Linked DNA regions of Homo sapiens: region 1 is linked to region 2. The links come from fine-mapping of genetic effects on plasma protein levels. Region 2 holds a variant in brackets. A gene starts in the other region. All regions are shown on their reverse strands.

Region 1 (2,924 bases), not on the chromosome of region 2:
CTAAGCAGGCTGTAATCCAGTCATTCCAAACTACCTGTGGTTCCTTGAATAAGTAATGCTGTTTCACTTGTCTGCATATGCATAGCAAAATCTTTTCCTATTCTGATTCTCCACTTAACTCATCCTAAACCCCTGCTCAAGTATCATCATTGCTGTGAAGTCTTCTCTGATTAGCTCCAAACATAGTAACCATTTCCTCCAAGGTTTCATTTCTTTTTCTTATTTTAGAGATGTGATCTCACTCTGTCACTCAGGCTGAGGTTCAGTGGCCTGATCATAGTTCACTGCAGCCTCAAACTCCTGGGCTCAAGCTATCCTCCCAGTTCGGCCTCCCAAAGTGCTGGGATTACAGATATGAGCCACCTCGCCTGGCCTCCAAAGTTTGTTATACTTTTCTCTCTTAACAGTGGTTTCCACATGTTATTGCAATTACTAGACCATATATTTTTACAGTGCAAAACTATCCCTTGTTCCTTCATGTACTGCCTCCACCCATCACATTGCCTGGCATTCATGAGTGCTAAAAACTTTTCATTGAATACAATACTAAGTAAATGAAGAAATGTGGGATTAAAAATGAATGCCTACAATGAACCAAGCTTTCTGCTGAGTTACCTGAATATTACAAAGAAGCAAAAATTATTACTGTAGAGGAACAATTACCCTGCTTGGAATGCAGAGATTATGTCAGCATACAAAATTGATTGCTTGATCAATCTGGAGTAGAATAGCTCATGAAGCATAGCTATACTTAATAATATAGCAAAGCAGAGGGGCCTGAGAGGGTCTTACTGCTTAATCTCTGTCCATCATGTCTTAGACCTACAGACAACTTGAGTTCAATGATTATGATGCCCCTCACCTCAGGGATCTGTTTCCATCCAGCTTCCAAAGATGGGCATACACCAGCACAAGCATAGAAAAATAACAAATCTGTATATTGGACCCTCTGCTTAGCAGTGAGAAAGCAGGTTTGAAGACAATAAAGCCAGGCCTGTATGTGGAGATTGGCACCATGACCCTGGATTATGTTTTATGGGATATGCCTCCAAGGGCAACTCTGCATTTATCCCATGGCCTCTGGCTTCCAAATTTTCTAGGCACTTCCCTCTGGGGTAAAGGAATCAAAATTGGCTTATTTCCCTTGCAAACCATCCTTGGCGACTAAGTACTGCCTTGTCTTCTACTGAGAGATGGCCATATTTTTGGCACCTGCCTTTCCTTGTGGGAGGTGTTTCCTCTGTTTACATAGCAAAGGGGCTGTAGGAGAGACAGACGGAGCTGGACTTACAGCAGAACCAAGTCATGATAGCCTGTTTCTATTTTGTTTTCAGCATTTTTCCGCCAGTTCTGGCCACCTCCTTTCCTCTGGAACATGCTGATTTCAGCAAGTCCAGCTCTGTCAGCTCTGCCCCCCGAGTCTATTGGTTTCTGATCATCTGATAATGCTTTGCCTGCACTCAGGACCTGTCTTTGTCCCTCCTCTTAACATACTTGCAGCTAAAACTAAATATTGCTGCTTGGGGACCTCCTTCTAGCCTTAAATTTCAGCTCATCACCTTCACCTGCCTTGGTCATGGCTCTGCTATTCTCCTTGATCCTTGGTGAGTATCTCTGCACCTGTTGGTTTAGGCTTCAGAGTTTTCTGGCACTTTGATTAGGAGAACTTTCTCCCCGCCAACCTGGAACAGATTTAGATGTTTTTCAAGGATGAGCTTCTTCCTCCTTTTTACATTTGGTAACTATTCTAATCCTTAAAAAGCCGCTTAATCCATACACATTTGTAATTCACTTTAACAGATTTTTTTCTATTTTCTTATATTTGTAATGACAGAGTCATGATAGTTTATCCCATTTCTCTTTTTACATAAGTGTTCCTAAATGTACTATTAGTAAGAAGACAAATGAATGGGCACCGGGCAGCAGCAAGTAGAGCCAGGAAAGGAAGTAGAACTGCAAGACAATCACCTTTCATTGATCATATTGTCTGGTTTCCTCTGAAAAGTGTTTCATATAATGTTTTTCTAGTTTTCTTCAGTTTCTCATTGCTTAGAGTAATCTAGAGATTAACCTAGTTAATCTGGTGATTGTGGAGCCAAGGAGACCTGGATTTCAATCCTGCCGTTTTGATTTCTTAGCGGTGTGAATTCGTAGGTTACCATACCTCTCTGAAATTTTGCTCTCTCATCTATGAAGTGAGGATAATATTATGTTCCTCAGAGGTTTTTAGGAGTATTTTTTTTTATAAGATAACTAATATAAAGCATCTAACAATGCCTGGTAAATCCCTATGCTAATCAATCACATCCACTTTTATGTCTTGATGATCTAGTACATCACCAAAGCCCACACAATCCTCTCAACTGGACACTTTTGTGTTCAATGTAAGGTACTGACCACATCTTAAACATCCATGCATCCCCCACATCACTCAACGGCTAGTCCTGCCCCTCATGGATATACTACTGGGTCTTCCAGGCTCATGTGCACTTCCACCTGCTTCATGAAGCCTTTCTGGCCTGTGCCTTCTGCAGTTACCCACCCTACTGCAGAGCTTCCAAGTCACTTACTGGCTATATCACGTTTGCACCTGCATATCAGGCTTGCCATGCTCACTTTCCTTCACATGTACACATGTTGGGTTGGGGTTATGCAATGATTCCCATATGTATAATATAACCTTGAGTTTTGGATAGTTGCAGAAAAGGCCTCATTGAGCCTGAGAGTGGCCACATTCTGAAGATTAAGGGAATGAGGGTAATGAGAGGTTATTTGGAAACCAAGAAAAGAAAATATTCCAGGATAAACCACTGAACTACTTGAATCTGCCTGAAAAACTGTAGGCTGGAGGTCCAAAGATATTTGCACCTTCTGAAAAATCCTATAAGATGGGGGTGGTGGGTGTTTTGCAGTTGAAAATGCAT
Region 2 (2,924 bases):
CAGAAAGAAGAAGAGAGTTGGCACTGTCACTCTGGAAAGAATGCCAGCCTATCAATGAAGGCTGCACCCTCCAATCATGAGATGATGCCAAAGCTGAACAAGAAAGTTGAGTGGGCTGGACTCAGGGGGTAGACTGCAGCCTGGAAAGGAATGCTAAAGAGATGGCAGAGCCTCTGAATGCACCATGGCAAGCCCACTGGATCCTGAGTCGGGGAGGAATTTTCGCATACCCTTATTGCCCCTGAGGAACAGGAGAAGTTTCCGTGGCCAGAATCCCCAGGAAAGGCACTCAAGGTTCCTTGGGTAGAGAAAACAGAAGTGAGAAGACAACATGAGAGGTACAGGTGGAGCCTTTTCATATATTCCAGAGATAAAGCAAATGACCTCACTGGTGAACAGCCAAAGGGGAAGAGAAAGTGGTTGAAGGAGATTAAGAACAGGGCAGAGATCAGAAGGTTCCTTACCCAATGTATGATCTGGAAAGGACAATTACATGGTGATGTGGAGGGCATTCAGTGCACAAGGGTGAGACTAAGCCATCTGCTATTCCTGTCCAAACAATAACAATAGTTTACAAATGACTGAATCAGGACAGGCGCACTCTTCCCTACAGTAGAGACCTGGGGAAGCCTTTACAAGCGATCATGTCCATCAAAAAGCAGTATCCTTCACCAAATGATCATACAGCAATAACCTGAACAAAAGGGCAACAAGCTTCAAAGTAGAAATAATCATCACAGAGGTTAAACCAACCTTGGGCCAGGTTTGTTTTTGGAGTTCAGAAATTTAAGAATTTAGAGAGTGTATCATATATTACACAATACCCTAAATGGTTTGGAGACAGTATTTCATCATCAAACATATCACAATTCAAACTTAATGGGATATATAACTACTACATAGAACAGAAATAGTTACACAAGAGTCCAAGTCAGAGTTTGCTACCAAACCCTGGTAAGGATTCTTACAAACAAAATCCTTTCCATTTGCAAAAGTTTCTGAATTGTGAATTTTTAGATAAAAGATTTATGAACTAGCAGTTAACAGCTGCAGTAACAGAACAGCAGCAGAAATAGGAGGAGAACATCAATTTCCCCTTCCTGATCACCACTCTGCCCCAGGT[G/T]CCAGGCTGTGCACTGTAGCATGTTCTCTTTAAAGGTGAAGAATTTGGAGTTCGATGAGCTTTATTCAGGACCTTTAGCAAACTTTTCTTCCCTTAGCCTCCCTAGGCAGAGTATGAGTACTAATGGTGTGTTTTTATTCAGGTCCTGCAATCCCATGACCTGGACTAGGCTGGGTGGGGTGAAGGGGGTCCCCAGAGTGAACTGAGTGAGCATGGCCCAGGGAGAGTCCAGCATAGCCACAGAGTGTAGGAAGAAAATATTGGAACTTCCATTCACACTGACTTAATGTGTTCTTTTAATCTCTATTTTAGTGTATGCTGAATAATGTATATATATTATCAGCACCATAGTACATGTACATAATTTATAAGTAAATATGTAAACTTATATATTGGGTGTGTCTGCTCAAAAAGTACCTGCTTGATAGGGCGTATGATCAAAAGAATATGCAGAGAACAGTTCTAGAGCATCTGAATAATTAAATCCTTTAACCTGTTGGAAAACAAATAACAAAACTGCAATACCAGGAAAAGAATTTGTTTTCTCCCTTTAGGCAATAACTATTTTCAGAACTGTATCTCTCCTTTTAGAAAGAAGAATCAGGTAATGAACATAATGCAAACCAGACAAGATGAAATAGACAAGATTTTTTTGGTTTTTTGGTTTTTAGTTTTTTAAGGCAAGCGTGATTTAAATAGGGTTTTCGGTAACTACCATTGTCACCTCTACTAAATGGTGTTTCTCTTGGGAAAATTCATTAACTATTAATTTCAATAAAGGATCTCATCTGTCTCAAGTCACTCTTACATTTACAAACTACACCATGCATGCACCACTTCCTTTTTACTTACTCTGGCACATTCAAATAATTTGCATTTTCAGAAGTAGACACAGATGCTTTTTTGTGGACCCAGGTGATGGGGCAGAGGCAGGATAAAAAGATTTGCATGTCCTTTGAGAGAGGAGTCACTCATAATTAGAAAAGAAATTCAAACTCACAATATAGAAATAAATCTGTTTACCATAACCTGGGCTTAGAGAAATCTGGATAACTGAAGCATTCATTTAGTTGTGACATTATTAAGTAACCAAGGAATTAGAAACCCTCCTGGGATTTGAGCACATAAATGTTCAATATGTGGCCAGGCACAGTGGCTCACACCTGTAATCCCAGCACTTTGGGAGGACGAGACAGGCAGGTTACTTGAGGTCAGGGGTTCGAGACCAGCCTGGCCTACATGGTAAAACCTCATCTCTACTAAAAAAAAAAAAAAAAAAAAATGACATGGTGGCAGGTGCTGTACTCAGGAGGCTGACACAAGAGAATTGCTTGAACTCAGGAGATGGAGGTTGCAGTGAGCCCTGAGAAGATCGCACCACTGCACCCCAGCCTGGGCGGCAGAGCATGATTCCATCTTAAAAAAGAAAATGGGCCAGGCACGGTGGCTCACGCCTGTAATCCTGACACTTTGGGAGGCCGAGGAGGGCAGATCACAAGGTTAAGAGTTCAAGACCAGCCTGGCCAACATGGTAAAACCCCGTCTCTACTAAAAATACAAAAATTAGCTGGGCATGGTGGCACACACCTGTAATCCCAGCTACTCAGGAAGCTGAGGCAGGAGAATCGCTCGAACCTAGGAGGCAGAGACTGCATTGGGCCGAGATCATGCCGCTGCACTCCAGCCTGGGTGACAGAGCAAGACTCCGTCTCAAAAAAAAAAAAAAAAAAAAAAAAAAAAAAAAAAACAACAAAGAAAATGACAACAAATATTTTTAAAATGTGATAGTTCTGAAAAAGCC

Alleles and levels. Alleles are on the strand shown, and positions count from the first base shown. The strength of an association depends on the size of the effect and on how common the allele is.
As copies of T replace G in region 2, the plasma level of the protein whose gene starts at base 1,470 in region 1 goes up (weak association).

What was found. PIP is the posterior inclusion probability: the model's chance that the variant is causal. The UK Biobank Pharma Proteomics Project read protein levels with antibody pairs (Olink). The fine-mapping took linkage between variants from a reference panel, not from the people measured, so its PIPs are less certain.
Region 1: it holds the start of CD5L, and the variant in region 2 is fine-mapped to the plasma level of the CD5L protein (UK Biobank, PIP above 0.99).

What each region holds. Positions count from the first base shown.
Region 1 is chr1:157,840,354-157,843,277 of GRCh38, reverse strand. It overlaps CD5L (CD5 molecule like), which reads left to right and starts at 1,470. Exons shown (of 6, transcript NM_005894.3): 1 at 1,470-1,604. The coding sequence starts at 1,577.
Region 2 is chr15:94,257,516-94,260,439 of GRCh38, reverse strand. The region is part of intron 1 of MCTP2 (multiple C2 and transmembrane domain containing 2); the gene reads right to left. Among named protein-coding and RNA genes, the nearest start is that of MCTP2, 27 kb to the right of the region's middle. The variant G/T (reference allele first, on the strand shown) is at 1,124.